2 separate regions of the Homo sapiens genome follow, and region 1 is linked to region 2. The links come from fine-mapping of genetic effects on gene expression. Tissue or cell type: whole blood. Region 2 holds a variant in brackets; the other region holds the start of a gene. All regions are shown on one strand. Distances are from middle to middle.

Region 1 (8,332 bases), 12 kb after region 2:
CTCATCTTTACAATGGGGATAGTGAAAGAACCTGGCTCCTCAGACTGTTTTAAGAATTAAGTGTGATAATGTATCAAAAGCATTCAGCACCATACCAGGCACGGTTGGGATTGTCATCATTATTACTGTGGCCAGTAGTATTAGGAAGTGCTCTGAAAATTGTACTCTGTGAAATAAGTCAGGATCTGACATTGTAAAATCAAAAAGGGCATTCTCCCTGGGAAATAGCTAGCAGCTCCTAGTGGCAAATTCCAGACTTGGGTCTATTTTTTGCCTTTATATACTTTCTCATTTATGTTTTGATTTATGAAAACGCATCCATCATTTTCTAAGGAAAGCCTCCAGGCACATGAACAAAAATGATAAAAATGCACAACAGAAACAAATAAAACCATTCGGCATGGCTAACAAGTCAGGCATTTGGCCCCAGAGGGGTAGATAAATCTAGAGCTGGGCTCAGCACTGGGACCCAAAGGTCAACAGGCTGGGACTTTGCTGAAGAAATAAAAGAAAGGGGATTCTGGAGCTTCAGCTAACAGCCTACCTCAGATCTTCTGAGAGCCTAGGAGTGAATCTTCCAGAGGCAGCCCCCGAAAGGGTCTCCAAGAGGCCAGTCCAGAAACCTGTGCAGAGCTGCCCTCTCTGCTCCTTCACTAGTCAGTGGGAGAACCAGCAGACTTCTCCAGCCACGCCAGGCACCCCGTTTACCCCCGTGAGGGAGAGGCCATCTTGGGGAAAGACACTCAGTTAAGAGAACTGGGGCTCCCTAGGAAACCTGTCAGTCATCCTTCTGTCTTTATCCCCTTACTCCAGAGGCATTGCTATGAGGGGACCCCCTACCCAAAGAATTTGCTTCAAAACTCAGCATTTCTAGCTTCCAATACAGATACCTCATTTTTGCTCGAGGCTGGGAACATGTGAGAGGAAAAGTGAGCAGGAATCCCAGCAGAATCAGGGAGGGATCCATAGGGGGTGAGATGGGTTAGGGCCCTCACTAGCAGAGCACAGGTGTCTTTGTAGAACCATGCTAGCCCACAATGGTTAACAGGGTCCATGATGGTTAACAAGGCATCTTGCAGAGTCTTTCCAAGGTGACATTCTAGGGGATGACACTCTAGAGGTGTCGCATTGGAACGGCTCTGCAAGATGCCTTTCTGCCCAGAGTCTGAGGGGATTCTCAGTTATAGACTGTTCTGGCCATAATCCACCAAACAAGGGGGTAATTCATAGGCTGCAAACAGGCCAAAAAGGTGGCCCAGTGTGAACATTAGGGCCCCACATGCCCAGTAGGGCTGCCCAAAACTAGATAACACCTGGCAGAGCCAATCAGATCTTCTATTGGGACATCTGACTGAGACATGGGGAGCTGTCGTCAAAGAGTAATGGTACATGTGACAGAACAGAAAAGAGTAGCCAGCACTCCAACTCCCCAACACGAGAGTGGACAAAAATGGACTTACATTTGTGGGGCAAAGCCCCTGTTAATAACAAGTATTCATAATAACAGTGTCCATGGAGCCACAGTTGACAACAATACTCATTGAGCATAACTTTTTGCCTGGCACTGTTAGGTCCTTGTGCACAGGATCTCACCGAAACTTGACAAGGAACCCCACATGGTCAGTGCTATTATTGTCACCACTGTATAGATGGTAGGAAACTGAGGCTAGAGAGGTGACACAGTGGTAAAGGGCAGAGTTGCAATGTGAACCCAGCAGTTTGATTATGGAACATGGGGTTTTATTTACTAGATTACACAAACTCCTGTCAAATCCTATATGGCCATGGACGATACTCCAGTTCTCGGTGAAGCCCAGCTGTGACTGCTGAGAAGATTTACTGTTCTTCCCCACCTCCCAGGGTGTCCTTCCAATAATCCTCCATCACCTAAAGCAATGGGATTACGCCATAGTCCCCTTAAACTGCAAGCATCTAACTAATACAGGGACACAAGTGTTCCAGAGAAGTGGCTAGTAACAGCAAAGAATGACAGACCCTCCAAATGAGGTTTGGTGGCTCCCTTTTACCCTTCTGAATCTTAAAGGAAGAAACACAAGCTGAGACATTCTGGACAGGTGGCTGGTGCTGGTGAAGTTGACCTCTTCATTTCCATCTTCAGGTCATTACAAGGGCCTTCCCTGAAGCCAACTAAATCCTTGGACAGAGAGGACCTGAGGCTGGTATTGCCCTGTGCTGCACAGTAGACAGCTCTTCTCCTGAGGAAGGGCTGCTGGCAAGGAGGGGCCAGTGACCCAGACCCAGTTAGTCAGACCCTCCCTAGTACAGTCTGCTGATGTCATTGAAGAAGGCCATGTCCTCTCATCTCAGCTGCTGGCCTATGAGCCTGGGGCTGCCTGCCTCATGGAAAGTGATAGGGGAGAGGGAGATAGAACAATCTGGGCCAGGCGCGGTGACTCACGCCTGTAATCCCAGCACTTTGAGAAGCTGAGGCAGATGGATCACTTGAGGTCATGAGTTCGAGACCAGCCTGACCAACATGGTGAAACCCCGTCTCTACTACAAATACCAAAATTTGCCGGGCATGGTGGCGCATGCCTGTAATCCAGCTACTAGGGAGGCTGAGGCAGGAGAATCACTTGAACCTGGGAGTCAGAAGTTGCAATGAGCTGAGATCGTGCCACTACACTCCAGCCTGGGCCACAGAATGAGACTCCATCTCAAAAAGAAAAGAAAAGAAGAGGAAAGGAGAAGAGAGGAGAGGAGAGAAGAGAGAAGAGAGGAAAGGAAAGGAAAGGAAAGGAAAGGAAAGGAAAGGAAAGGAAAGGAAAGGAAAGGAAAGGAAAGGAAAGGAAAGGAAAGGAAAGGAAAGGAAAGGAAAGGAAAGGAAAGGAAAGGAAAGGAAAGGAAAGGAAAGGAAAGGAAAGGAAAGGAAAGGAAACGAAACGAAAGGAAAGGAAAGGGGAGAGCTGTGGTGGCCCTCGTGCAGGACAGGAGATGAGGCAGTTGTGTGGCCAACCTGTAAAAGGAAAACACTTCCCACCTACTGCAAGGTGACTCAAGGTGGAGGTGCCAAAATTAGGGGAAAAGGCTTCCAGCCAAGCACAGAGGAAGGGTATGAAAGAACTTTCTAATAGCCTCAAAGCAAGATCACATGAAGATTCTGCAAGACTGCACGACATTTTTCTTTTTTCTTTTTTCTTTTTTTTTTTTTTTTGGAGACAGGGCCTCACTCTGTCACACAGACTGGAGTACAGTGGCACAATCACAGCTCCCTACAGCCTCAACCTCCCAGCCTCAAGCAATCCTGCCAGCTCAGCCTCCCAAGCAGCTAGGACCACAATGTATGTGCCATTATGCCTAATTTTTCTATTTCTTTTAGAGTCAGAGTGTCCCCACATTGCCCAGGCCAGTCTGGAACTCCTAATCTCAAGTGATCCACCCACCTTGGCCTCCCAAAGTGCTGGGATTACAGGTGTGAGCCACATAGCCCAGCCACAACATTTTTCCAGAAGACAAATGGACTAACCTCATATTGATCCTGGGACTATGAAAATAGGGCAGCCGGCAAGACTTGAGCCAAATATATAGACTCTACTTCATAAATGAAAACCTCCAAAAAGTCCAAATTTAGTATTTTTCATGCTCATGCAAAGGACAAGCTTCCTCCTCCATTGAAAGGAAAGGAAGGGAGAAGATTTACTACAGGGTGGCCAGAGCTTTTCCCTGGAATGGCCCAAAGTTGCTTCTCTGTCCCCAGACAACTTGGGTTTGAGCTCTAGGGGACCATATATAATATTTTCTAGGTCCCTGTGAGTACACCCTTGATGTACTGGAGACGGGAGGTCAGATTTGATTTACATTCACAGGCAAAATTGAAGTTAGAACTCACCCCAACTCAGCGGAAAGGAGACTGCGGGACAGTGAGGACTCAAGGAGTAACTGTGAGGCAGCTTAAGTGAACTTCACTCAGGGCACAGTAGGTTTTCTTGTTCTAAGTAAATATCTTAACAGTTTCCAGTTTTACAAATTTAAAAACAGCTAAAAATATGCACACTTATATTTTCTAGTTTTTGCAGATGATGCTGAGGCAAGTTAAGAGGGAACATGCTAACCACCAAAACCATCCTCATTTTCATGACTAGGTGGACAGGGAGGAACCGAGGCTTGTACTGCCCTGTGTTGCATAGTAGATAGCTCCTCTCCTGAGGCAGGGCTGCTAATGACCCAGGCCCAGTTAGCCAGACCCTCCCTGGTATAGTCTGCTGATGTCATTGAAAAAGGACATGACTTCTTATCTCAGCTGCTGGCCTGTGAGCTGGGGCTTCCTGCCTCACGGAAGGTGAGAGAGGGAGAGGGAGACAGAACCCTGGCAACCTGGGACGGGCACAGTGGCTCACACCTGTAATCCCAGCACTTTGGGAAGCCAAGGTGGGTGGATCACCTGAGGTCAGGAGTTCAAGACCAGCCGGGCCAACATGGTGAAACCCCGTCTCTGCTAAAAATACAAAAATTAGCCGGGCATAGTGGCACACGCCTGTAATCCAGCTACTTGGGAGGCTGAGGCAGGAAAATCCCATGAACCCAGGAGGCAGAGGTTGCAGTGAGCCAAGATTGCACCACTGAACTGGGAAACAGAGCGAGACTCCGTCTCAAAAAAAAAAAAAACCCTGACAACCTGGTGCCAACCCCTGGATCCAGCTGTTCCTGTATCCCATATTCCTCTGCACTTCCCAGTTACATGAGCCAATTATTCCCTTTTTGTTTATTATTAGTTTGAGTGTCTGTCACTTGTAACTTAAATAAGCCTGCCTACAAATTCTAGCCAAGGCATTCATCTTCTGGCAAGCCTCTATAAAGAACCTGTAGGTGCTGCTTTTGAACACGAAACTCCCTGCTTCATTTGATCACTGACTACCAGAGAATGCAAACTCTTGGACAACATGAGCACAGCAAGTATTTTATCCTCAGTCCCTCCCCTTCCTCTGACTGTCAGCCTTCAAACCCAATGCCAATCCCATCCCCACTTCCCCCTGACTCCACCATCATTACCATTGTCTCCCTTCTTCGTCTTTGTCAAAGTACCTCACCAGTGAAAGAAAAGTGACCTCTGCTTCAAAAATGAATAACTGCCACGAATGCGGAGAGCCACAGCAAAGGAAACCACGCCTCCTTTGATAAATACCATGCAGCTGCTGCTTGGTGATGATGGTCTCGCCCTGGTGGAGCATTCTAGGGTCAGATGTTTACAGAGAAAAGGCAGGCAGGTGCCAGTGCTTGAACATCAGGCCAAATCCCAGGTTTCCCCAGCCGTCACTCATTCTCATGCACAAAGTAGAGGCCCTGCAATTGCTTCCTAAGACTCAGTTTCCTTATAGGTAAGCTGGAAAACATTTAGTATTAACAAGCACCAGAGCTATGTCAAAGGAGAATCATCCAAAACATTGCTGAGCCTTGACGAAGATGAACAGCACTCAGGGGAAGAATTCTAGGTGGATCTTTGGGTAATAGGAACCCTGAAAACAGCAATGATCCAGTAGGTGACATGTAGGGCGTGCCCCTCGCCTTCCTGGACTGGTGCTCAGCATTCCACTTGTATGATCTCATTTAATCCCCACAACACACCCATGCGGTGGGAAATAATTATCATCTCCACTTTACAGAGGAGGCTCCTGAGTCTTCAAGAGAATGTGAGACTTGTCCACAGTCACTCAGTAGTGCAGCCACAGTGACCTTGAAGTCAGGCCCGGTGTCTGGCCTTTGTGACCATGCCATCCCAGGGATGTAAAAGAACTCAACAGTTGCTCAGAATACCCCTTTTACCATCTCAACGACATGGGCAATCAAGGACTGCCTTGCTTCCTGCCGGGTTCCTGAGTGAATCAGTGGGCATGACTTTGAGAAACAGAAAGCTCTAAAAATCTTGGGTGTTATTACTGTCTAGGCAGTGCAGTCAGAGATGATGTTGATGGTGGTAGCCTGTTTTACTCATCTCACTCTCAGAGGATGCTAATCACATGGGTGGGAAATTTCATTAAACAACTGTCTCCTGGAGGCAGATGTTCATCCCAGAGCAGATTGGCATTCAGTCCCTTCCCCCCAGCTGGCCTGAAGAGCACTGGCAACGCAGGCCAGTGCTCCAGAGGTGCTGGGATGGAAGGTCCTGAGGTTAATCCTCTTCCAGCATTCACTATCCATGCACCCTCTAAGTTTCGCTTTCTCATCTGTGAATTTTCTCATCTGAGGAAGGGCTGCCGGCAGGAAGGGGCCAGTGATCCAAGCCCAGTTAGCCAAATCCTCCCGGTACAGTCTGCTGAAGTCATTGAAAAACCCCATGTCTTCTCATCTCAGCTGCTGGCCTGTGAGCCTGGGGCTGCCTGCCTCGTGGAAAGTGAGAGAGAGAGAGAGAGAGAGAGAGATAGAACTTTGGCAACCTGGGTTGGGCTAGGTTATAATAATACCTACTGTAGGTTATAATAATACCTGACTGTGAACTGGGAGCCATAATAATACCTACTATGGGTTTTCTAGGAGGTGAGAAGTTTGTCTTCTACTTTTTTTTGAAACTACAAAATACTTTAGACATCCAAAATGTAAGTATTAATATATAACCCACCAGCAGCTTAAGAGATAAAATGTTGTAACTGATGCACTCCTGCCCCAGTTCCATTCCTCTCCTTTCCTTACCAGAGGCAACCATTCCCCCAAGTCTGATATAGATCAAGACTTGGAAAACTTTCTGAAAAGGGCCAGATGGTAAGTAGTTGCACCTTTGCAGGCCACACGGTCTGTGGCAAGTATTCAACCCTGTCCTTGGAGTACAAAGGCAGCCATAGTTGATAAGTGAAAGAACAAGTGTGGTGGTGTTCCAGCAAATTTTATTTATGCACACTGGAATTTGAATTTCATATAATTTTCAGGTGTCACCAAAGAGTGTCCTTCTTTTGATTTTTTTTCAACTATTTAAAATTGTAAAACCCATTCTTAGCTCACAAGCCACGCAAAAGCAGGTGGTGGGCTGGACTTGGCCATGGGCATAATTTGCCAACCTTGGTATATATCATTCCCATGCATATTTTAATACTGAAACATAATATGTGTATATCCATATACAGTATTGTTTAGTGGGTCTTAAAATTTCATATAAATGGTATTATATGGTACTTTCACTTCTACAGCTGATCACTCTTTTTCAACATCAAATTTGCTGAGATTTAGGTGAGTTATTACATGTAACTTCAGTTAATTCATCTTAACTGCTGTATAGGAACTCACTATATGACTTTACCACAACTTATATGTAGGACTATTTATAGGATTTTACTATATGAATTCACTGCAACTTATTTATCCCTTCTCCTCTCAGTGGGCATTCAAGTTGTTCTACAGTTTTACAAATAAGGCTGCAAGAAGCACCTTCTGCATGTCTCCTTGTGCATGTGCACAAAAGCTGCTGTAGGATTGCTCTTCCTAGTAGAATTTCATGGTCACAGGAATGTTTGCTGATCACATAAAGCCAGGAAGGAAAGGGCTCATACCCAGCACCTTGTGTATCAATCACTGGCAGCTCCTGTTCCTCTGGAGCCCCCTCAAGCACCGGACAGAGGAATGAGCACATGTAAGTGCTTAATACACACTTTTTCACTTAATTCATAAAGACAGGGGGGCAGGGGGCAGGGGCAAAGGGAGGGAGAGCATTAGGACAAATACCTAATGCATGTGGGGCTTAAAAACTAGATGACAGGTTGGTACGTACAGCAAACCACCATGGTACGTGTATACCTATGTAAAAAACCTGCACGTTCTGCACATGTATCCCAGAAATTAAAGTAAAATTTAACAACTAAATAATAAAAATTAAAAATTAAAAAAGACCATCATGGAAAAAAATCTGTGGGACAAACAGTGGGACCTGTGAGTGATCAGGGAGAGAAAAACTCAGTTAGATGAAAATCTCCAAGAATGGCTTTTTAAAAAAGCAACATAGTTGAAGTTGGGAGGGATGGATGGAAAACAAATTCTTCTGATGAAGGCACTGACCTAAGTGGGCTCCGAGGTGGAAATGAACATGCCATGTGCAAGGAAATCCAGGAGACCAAGTAGGCTGGAACATTTGCAAAGTTCTTTTTGCAGGCATTGAATGCCAGGCAGGGGGCATGGGGCTTGACTTGCTGGTCAGTGGGAGCCCAGGAAAGGCCAGCCTAGGATGGCCAGGGCTACCCACTGAGTATGTTAACTCAGCTGGTCCTGTGTGGTGGAAGCTTGGGAGCAGAGCCTGAAATCACACACACCGTGAAAATAGTATGTTGGTGTTGTGGCTCTTCCAAGGCTGAGCCAAGCCTGATACAGCTTGGCCTTTTTTATACCGTATCTT
Region 2 (8,332 bases):
AATTGAGTCTTGAACAGCCCCGTTAGGGAGACAGGCCAGATCAGAAAGGTTAGCCCCAGGTCCCACTTAGCAAACACCCACCCCCTCTAGCCTCTGTTCGGTGCTGTAACTTCAGTGTTCCACGTGAGTAAACTGAGGCACGGTGGTGGAGAGTAACTTTTCTCAGAATGAGGTATAGGATCTGGGCTTCCATTTCAGGAGTTACTGTTCAATTGTTAAGTGATTTTAAAAGATTCGATGTCTGTGGACTGCCTGTCCTTTCATATCTTGTGCTCTGAGTAATCAGCTCTACCTGGAAGAGAGAAACAGAAGCCTGGCACTCACAGAGGGGCAGGAGAGAGAATGAGTATGAAAGTTCACCCCTCTTCTTCTCCCCAAAGTGAAAACAGCTTGTCTTTGCCCCAAATGAAAAGAGTCAGACCTTGACACCTTAAATTACAGATAAGTTCCAAAACCAAAGAGGTAGCTCTAAACACTGACACCAATTTTCAGGGAGAAAGGCAGCCACCCCCGGGTCCCTCCTCCTAACTAACCATCCCTTATCAGTAGATCAGGGACCAGACATGGTCTTCCGGACCATGAAAGATCTGGAAAGACAGAGCCACATCAGAGTGCTGGCTTTGCACTAAATCCTCATGCTTCTATGTGGAATTCAGCAGGAAGAAGGGAAGCCCTTCTTATTTACTATAACAAAATAGTAAACACTTCCTCTAACACTGGGATAGGAAGGTTTCATCAATTCACCGTGGCAAGGGGTACAGATTATTGTTGTACTTTGACTCATTCCAATAAGCGAGTAGCCGAAGCTGACCCCTGACCCCTGTGGTTGGGGGTCATCCTCACTTCCCCACCTCTCATCCCACCATTACCCCAACACTCAGGACCAGCTGCACAGAGCCCCCACAGAATGAGAGGGAGGTGGGGAGGAAGAAACGACAAGGTTGGGGATAGCGAATACATGGGTTGGTGAGATGATCACCCTCAGATTCTAAAATAGGCCAAAATGTAAGAAACAATAGTAATTATACAGGCGATACATTAATTTATTTTCATTACACTATTTAAACAATATGGAAGTTTATTTAGTTAAAATCGGAGTTCGCTCTTCACTTCCTTTCCTACCATAACTGTGAATACCTCAGAGGGTGTCCTTTCAGATTTTACATCTGCATGACATGCAGATATATGCATGTAAACAATTTCGACCTAGATGGGTTTGAAAGTCCCTGCCCCCAAGATCATGGCTGGAAAAAAATGACAAGGGAACATTTCTAGAAAAGATAGAAAATGTCAGAGACCAGAGACACTGCTTCATCCCTAGTCATGGTGCCAAGGGACTTACTTTACATCAAATTCCCTGGAACCAGACTCTGTGTCAGAGATTGTGGTACAGAGCAATTTGGGAAACACTCAGGAACAACCCCTGTCAGGGAAAAGGGAAAGCAGGAGGAGGCAGGTGAGGAAGTTGAAGTGTGGTGCGGTTGTAACAGAAGCTTCCTTCTTCCCTTGGGGAGCTCTGGAGGTGGGTTGCCCTTCTGAGCTGTTCCAAGTTACAGCAAGGGAGCCCAGCTTTTCTATTCCTAAGTCAACTAATTGGCTGCAGGGTCCCCCGGAAGAATGGGAGTAAGATTGGGTAAGGCCACTGCCTTCTGCCAGGGCTGGTTCTAGAGAAAGACCAGCTGTGGACCATCAGCAGCTGATTCTCCCTGGGCAGCTAGCACAATGGATGCCTTGGTCTTGAAGCGGGGATCTGGGATGCCCACCACAGCCTCTACCACTGAATTCTCAGATGTTTCAAAACATTTTCTCAGAAAATAGCATCTCTTCCAGAAAGAATGAGGAGTAAATGGGGTAGGAAGGAAACTTGTTAAGTGAACAGATAAGAGGATGTCACCACCCCAGTGTTGACACAGCTCCTGGATCTGAATGGCAAGGCTAATACCAAATGTCCCCACAACTTCCTAGAATGTTGCACTATGCCATATCCTGGGCAACGCCAGCCTCAGAACCACAATTACAATCGCCAATAAGACAATAAGAAATGACTTTCCTTTCCCTCCTCTTTGGCCCAGGTTGTTGAGTTCTACTGGACAAATTCTACCTGTGTGTTTGGAAAGAAAAAAACAAAAACTTTCTTTTCTTTATAAACAATAATAGAGCAATGGAAAGCTTTCTTGGAAACCTCATTGTTGCATCAGGCACAAACCTCCCAAGGTGCATGCTCTCAGCCCTGTGCCACAGCCAGCAGCCACACAGACCCGGAGCTCCTGGTGCCCTGCTCACCTGGCTGTTTTCTTTCCTTCTGGACTCAGCAAGAATGCCCAGCTCCAGCCAAGAGCTGAGATCCCAAGTGTCTGGGGTCAACATTGGTAGTCTTTGGGTGACATGTTCAAAGTATCACATCGATTTTGTTTTCCTGCAAACAATCATAATGAACATCCACTGAAACCTTCCTAAACCAGGCCTAGGCCAGTGTGCTTTCCTAGGAAACCTTCCCAAGTTCCTTCACGGAGGATTTCTATCCAGCAAGAAGTGTTCAAAATTGTCCTTACTAATCTCAAAATAACACCATCATTATCAGTACTCATGGTGAAAATGGCCAATAAACGTACCTCAGGGTCTTGGGCTCCTGCTCTACAAAATGGGACGCTGCCTGTCTGCACTAAACTTTGCAGAGCAGGTCAGAGAATAGACAGTGCCTCCTGCAGCACTTGGGAACACAAACTTTGTAAACAAAAAGTAGAACTAACTGACCAACCTAGCAGCATGACCTTGTCCATCCATTCTAGAATATGAGAGATTTCAATTGTAATGGTGCAACTAGCACAGAATAAATTATTGTATGTGTTAACTCAAACACAGGGGCCTTTTTCCCGGTAGCTTCATATAAATACAAAACTGCTTTTGAGGCTCTAGGAAAAGATGGTCAGGGAAGGGTTGTTATTTAGGGGATTTATCTTTAAACACCTTTTTTCCACACTTTTTAACAAAGATTGGTAATGCTTGGCCAATTTTCCACTTGCCAGTGACTTACAGGAAAATACTACAGAAAAACAAGGACCAAAGGGTCCCAAACACCTCTGCACCTATTTCTCCTGCAGAAATCTTGCATTCAAAGTGGGGATACAGTATATGTCCTACATCACAGTAGCTAACACCTGCAGAGCACTGACCCGGACCAGGAACTATAATGAAGCCCTTCACATGATTAAGTCACTTCATCCTTACAATTACCCCAGTTTACTATTGTTATTCTCAATTTATAGATGAGAAAACTGAGGCCCAGAGTGCTAAGCGACCTGCAATCAGCAACCCAGGAGTCTGTGTACTTAATCATGATGCTATCCTGCTTCCAGAGTGGAAAAACCTGACAAGGAGTGCTTTTACTTTGAATCCTTTAGTTGTCTTTATTTTCCAAATTCTCTTTGAGACAGGTAGAACCAGAGCTGCCCAATCCATGAAAACACTGGACCTCCATGACTTAACTGAGTCACAAAATTAATCAGTGATGGAACACAGAATGGAACCTAATCCAACACGTAGCACAGATCCTTACAGTTCAGCCAAGCAGACAGAAAACTCAGACTGAAGACAGACGTCTGCTCCTGATCAGAAGGCAAGCAGACCCACATGCTGGACAAGGGTGAGAGGTGATTGCTAAGCTCAGCCAACAGTAGCCCTAAAGCATATCACATCCTCCCTCTATTTCATCCTGGGCAAGGGTTTGAACCTGTCTGGGCCTCCTTCTAGGAGCAATGACAGGAGTCAATACATTTCAAAAACAAAACAATAATGGACATTTGCACTATCCTTAATCATTTCCAAAACATTCCAAATGCATCATCTCATTTAGTTCTTCTAACAGCCCTGTGAAGAAAGTTTTATGGTATTCATTTTAGAGAGATAGAAACTGAGGCTCACAAAAGTTCTGATTGATCCAGACTCACATAGCTCAGTCTTCATGCTTGATCCCACGCTGTCTCCACTATGTCCTTTCAACTGTTTTCTGGTTCAAGATCCAGCGGTTGAAGGTCAAGTTCAAAGAGAAGGCTGGGGAAATCTAGACCTAGACCATCAAACCAGAAACTGCTCATCCCCAGTACTTCAAATATATTATTACCAAATGCAAGAGACTGTTGGTTTTTATTATTTAACCAAACAGGATCTGTTCCATGCACATTCCCACTGCTAATCAGACATGGTGAATCACAAAAAGACATTGTTTTCCACGTTTTTATCTGTTTGCCTGATTCCTGGCCCACTGGTTAAAACTCTGAGAGACCCTAAGATGCCAGTGGTCAACTTGTGCAATCCAAGTATTATGTGATCAAAACACTGAACTGCCCTAATACAGTGTTTTTGTTTGATTTTTTTACTAAAACACCACTGACCCCCAAAAGATAATGGCTTTTTCTTTTTTTTTTTTTCGAGATGTCACCCA[G/C]GCTGGAGTGCAGTGGCGCGATCTCGGCTCACTGCAACCTCCATCTCCTGGGTTCAAGCAATTCTCCTGCCTCAGCCTCCTAAGTAGCTGGGATTACAGGCGCCTGCCACCACATCCGGCAAATTTTTGTATTTTTAGTAGAGATGGGGTTTCATCATGTTGGCCAGGCTGGTCTCAAACTCCTGACCTCAAGTGATCTGCCTGCCTCGGCCTCCCAAAGTGCTAGGATTTTACAGGCGTGAGCCACCGTGCCAATATATTTTATGTTAGTAAGTCATTTATTTCTCCCAACAACCCTATGAGATAGTCACTATTGTTATTTTATTGTTTATCTTACAGATAAAAAAAATTAAGACACAGAAAGGCTCAGGGACCTGCTTATCAGTGTCAGAGCCATGATTCAGGTACGGGCATCTGATTCAGGACTCTGCTCCTAACTGCGGACTCCAGAGAGCTTAGTAAGAACTTCACAAGCAGCAGTTCTCTAGGATTTGACTGGAGGGTTTGAGGATAGGAGTTTTGTCGTTTTGTAGGGTTAATTTTTTTTTTTTTTTTAACAAGGTCTCACTCTGTCGCCCAGGCTTGAGTGCAGTGGCTCAATCTCGGCTCACTACAACTTCTGCCTCCCAGGCCCAAGCAATCCTCCCACATCAGCTTCCCAAGTAGCTAAGACAGCGGGGACCACAGGCGTGCACCACCACACCTGGCTAATTTGTGTATTTTTTGTAGAAACAGGGTCTCACCATGTTGCCCAGGCTGGTCTCAAACTCCTGACCTCAAGAGATCCTCCAGCCTCAGCCCCTCAAAGTGCTGGGATTATAGGCATGAGCCACTGCACCCAGCCTTGTGAGGTTAATGTTTTAAGTTTCACTTTCCTTTTATCAATGAAGTTTATCACCATATCTTATCACTACAGTTTTATTCTTTTGGCTCATAAAGAGACTCCTCCCTCTCATTAAAATACAAATCTTGGAAGGGCAATGTCTAGAACCATTATCAGTAAATATCTTAGTTCTCAAGTAACGAATTAGCAGAAAATGGAAATGAGCCTCTGTAGAGACTTGGCAATACCCAAAATGACAAAATGAAGGGAAAGGATAGGGAGATGGAAGGTTCCCAAAACCAAATGCCACCTTTCCTCTCTCCCCTAGCTCTTTATGGCACAGTGCACACCTGTATTAATGACCACTCTGCTTACCAAACAGAAATCTATGGAAGACATAAAGATGGATGGGTTAGTCCGGAGATGCACAGCCTGGCTCTCAACTCCTCCAGGCCAGGCCAGCTGCTGTTCTCCTCACATTTTGGCCCCTACAAGATTACCCCTACTTCTGATATAAAGACATGTCATCGTGTCTCAAGCGGCAGCTCTCCCAATCTTAGCGAGGCTCAATCTTGCAACCTTTCCCTTAGCCAGACCCAGCCTCCCAGAGACTCTGAGAGAGGACCCCCACTTCTCCCTCAGCAGCCACTGCCATTTACCCAATACTTATTTCCTACTTCTTGGTAGTTTATTGTATCAGGCTATCTTACTTCCATCTGTCTGAGTCAGTCAAGTACTATTTTGAAGAAGGCAAAGTAGTAATTCATATATCAGTAGGTAGGTAAACATGGAAATCACACCAACAACAAAGCCAGAAGCAATAATGATAACAGTAACCACAACAGTGACCATGTGTGGAATGCTCCTGTATGCCCTGTGCTTTACATAGCTGATTTCATGTCACTCTCTCAACACACCTTCGAGGTAAGTATGCTTTACAGATGGGGAACTGAGGCTCGGGAATTTAAGTAACATGCCCACCTCAACCAGAAAGTACTAAGGCCCAGCTCCATCTGTGGGGCTGTCTTTCTGCAAAGTTCAGGCTTTTAATCCACTAGACTCTAGCCTAGACTCTTTAATCCACTCTACAACCAGGCAGGCTTTGGTTAAAGGAATTGATGTATTTCTTTGTTTTCCCCAGAATACTTGCTAAATTGATGTACTGCTATTGTTAAGAGTTCAGTCAACTACAAAGATTGAAAGGAGAATCCTCACAAGGCTTCCCTCATTTCAAACACTAGCTGCAAGTTTGGGGGTATCCATGCCATCCTCATGACACATCAGCTGGCTACTAATTTGGGAGATTCACACAAATACCCTCAGGTTTGATAATTCACTAGAATGATTCAGAGAACTCTGGAAGGCGCTATGCTTGTGATTTTATTATAGGAAAAGGATACACATTTAAATCTGCAAAGAGAAGAGACACGTAGGGCGGAATCCAGGAGGGGTCTAAAGGCAAAGCTTCTGAGTTTCCTCTCCCCATAGAGTCGTGGATGGTGTTGCCTCCTCCTGGCCACAGTGTGAGACAATGCACACAGAGTATTGTGAACAAAGGATGCTCACCCAAGCCTTTAGTGTCCAGAGTTTTCCTTGGGGCTTAGTCACATAATGTCCACATGGTTGACTTTCAGTCTCCAGCCCTCAGTGGAGGCTCAGGCCAATACCTTATGCCTCTAGTTCCCATGGAGGTTAGAACTGATATGGTGTGTCCCAAAGCCCCCATTATGAAACACACTATTGGACTGTCCAGTTGCCAAAGCCCCCAGACAAACAAAGACATCGGGCTGGACACTTCAGGGGCCTAGAGATTGCCTCCCAGGAGCCAAGGGCAAAGGCCAGACCCCTCTTTTGGTCAATTCTTCAGTACACAACTGTATATATAACACCAAAGTGCCACGACACAGATAAAAATAGAAAAAGATAGACAGAGGAGCAAGAGAATTAGAGAGAGAAAAAGAGATAATATCCACAATTTGAATTTTAGAGTGGAAATAAACTTCAAAAGAGCACGTGCCCTAGTACCTGGGTTCAAGCACATAACATATGAGACTGTACTGAGAGGGTCTAGAAAGGTTGTCCAAGATCCCATAGAGGTAGACTGGAAAAAAGTCTGTGATCCTGATTTTCGTTTTGTTTTTGTTTTTGTTTTTGTTTTTGTTTTTGTTTTTTGAGATGGAGTCTCTGTCGCCCAGGCTGGAGTGCAGTGGTGCAATCTCAGCTCACTGCAACCTCCGCCTCCCAGGTTCAAGCAATTCTCCCGCCTCAGCACCCCCTAGTAGCTGGGATTACAGGCGCACGCCGCCACGCCTATTTTTTGTATTTTTAGTAGAGAGGGGGTTTCACCATGTTTGCCAAGCTGGTCTCGAACTCCTGACCTCAGATGATCCACCCGCCTTTGCCTCCCAAAGTGCTAGGATTACAGACCTGAGCCACCGCACCCAACCTGATCCTTGATTTCTACTAAAAAAATCCATTCCCCTCTATCGTGATGCCACATATTCTCCCCTCCAAATCTCACTTGCCTATCCAAAATGTCGCATCAGTAGCCTGGGGTTTGCTGACACACACATCTCTCAATACACAGCATGTTCAATAGGCCCTCCTTTCCTGTGCCCCCTTTGAAGATTCCAGGCAGGATCTTATAGTGAGTGGTCTACTATCATCCAGTTTCTCAACTACTGAAGCCTGCGGGCTCACATCAAGAGCTCTGGGGATCCAATCCACTCCAGAGCATCTGGGGAAAAGCCACCTGCTCCTGGATTCTAGGTGTGGTTCCAGAAGGGACCACCATCTCTGCTAAGACACACACCATCCCTGCCAGGAGCATCTGTGCAGGGCCAGGACAACACCATGACAAGAGGAAGACTCAAGTCCTTACTCTGCCCCAACAAGCTCTTCCAGGTCTCCGGGTTTCCCTTTTATTCTTTGTGAAATGAAAGGCTTAGCTTAGAATCTTGATGCTCCAAGTGGGGTCCAATGACCAGCACAGGGCATTACCAGGGTGCTTTCTGGAAATGCAGACTTTCCAGCCCCACCTCAAGACTACCACATTTAGATCTGCATTT

What was found. PIP is the estimated chance that this variant, and not a neighbour inherited with it, causes the effect. A credible set is the group of variants that fine-mapping cannot tell apart.
Region 1: MIR4432HG starts here. The variant in region 2 is the best candidate, but not a certain one, in a credible set for the expression of MIR4432HG in whole blood (INTERVAL, PIP 0.53).

The regions. Positions count from the first base shown.
Region 1 is chr2:60,386,296-60,394,627 of GRCh38, forward strand. MIR4432HG (MIR4432 host gene) reads right to left here and starts at 5,080. Exons shown (of 2, transcript NR_132992.1): 1 at 5,011-5,080. MIR4432 (microRNA 4432) reads right to left here and starts at 1,150; the gene lies at 1,067-1,150.
Region 2 is chr2:60,374,555-60,382,886 of GRCh38, forward strand. The region is part of intron 1 of MIR4432HG (MIR4432 host gene); the gene reads right to left. Among named protein-coding and RNA genes, the nearest start is that of MIR4432, 8.7 kb to the right of the region's middle. The variant G/C (reference allele first, on the strand shown) is at 4,442.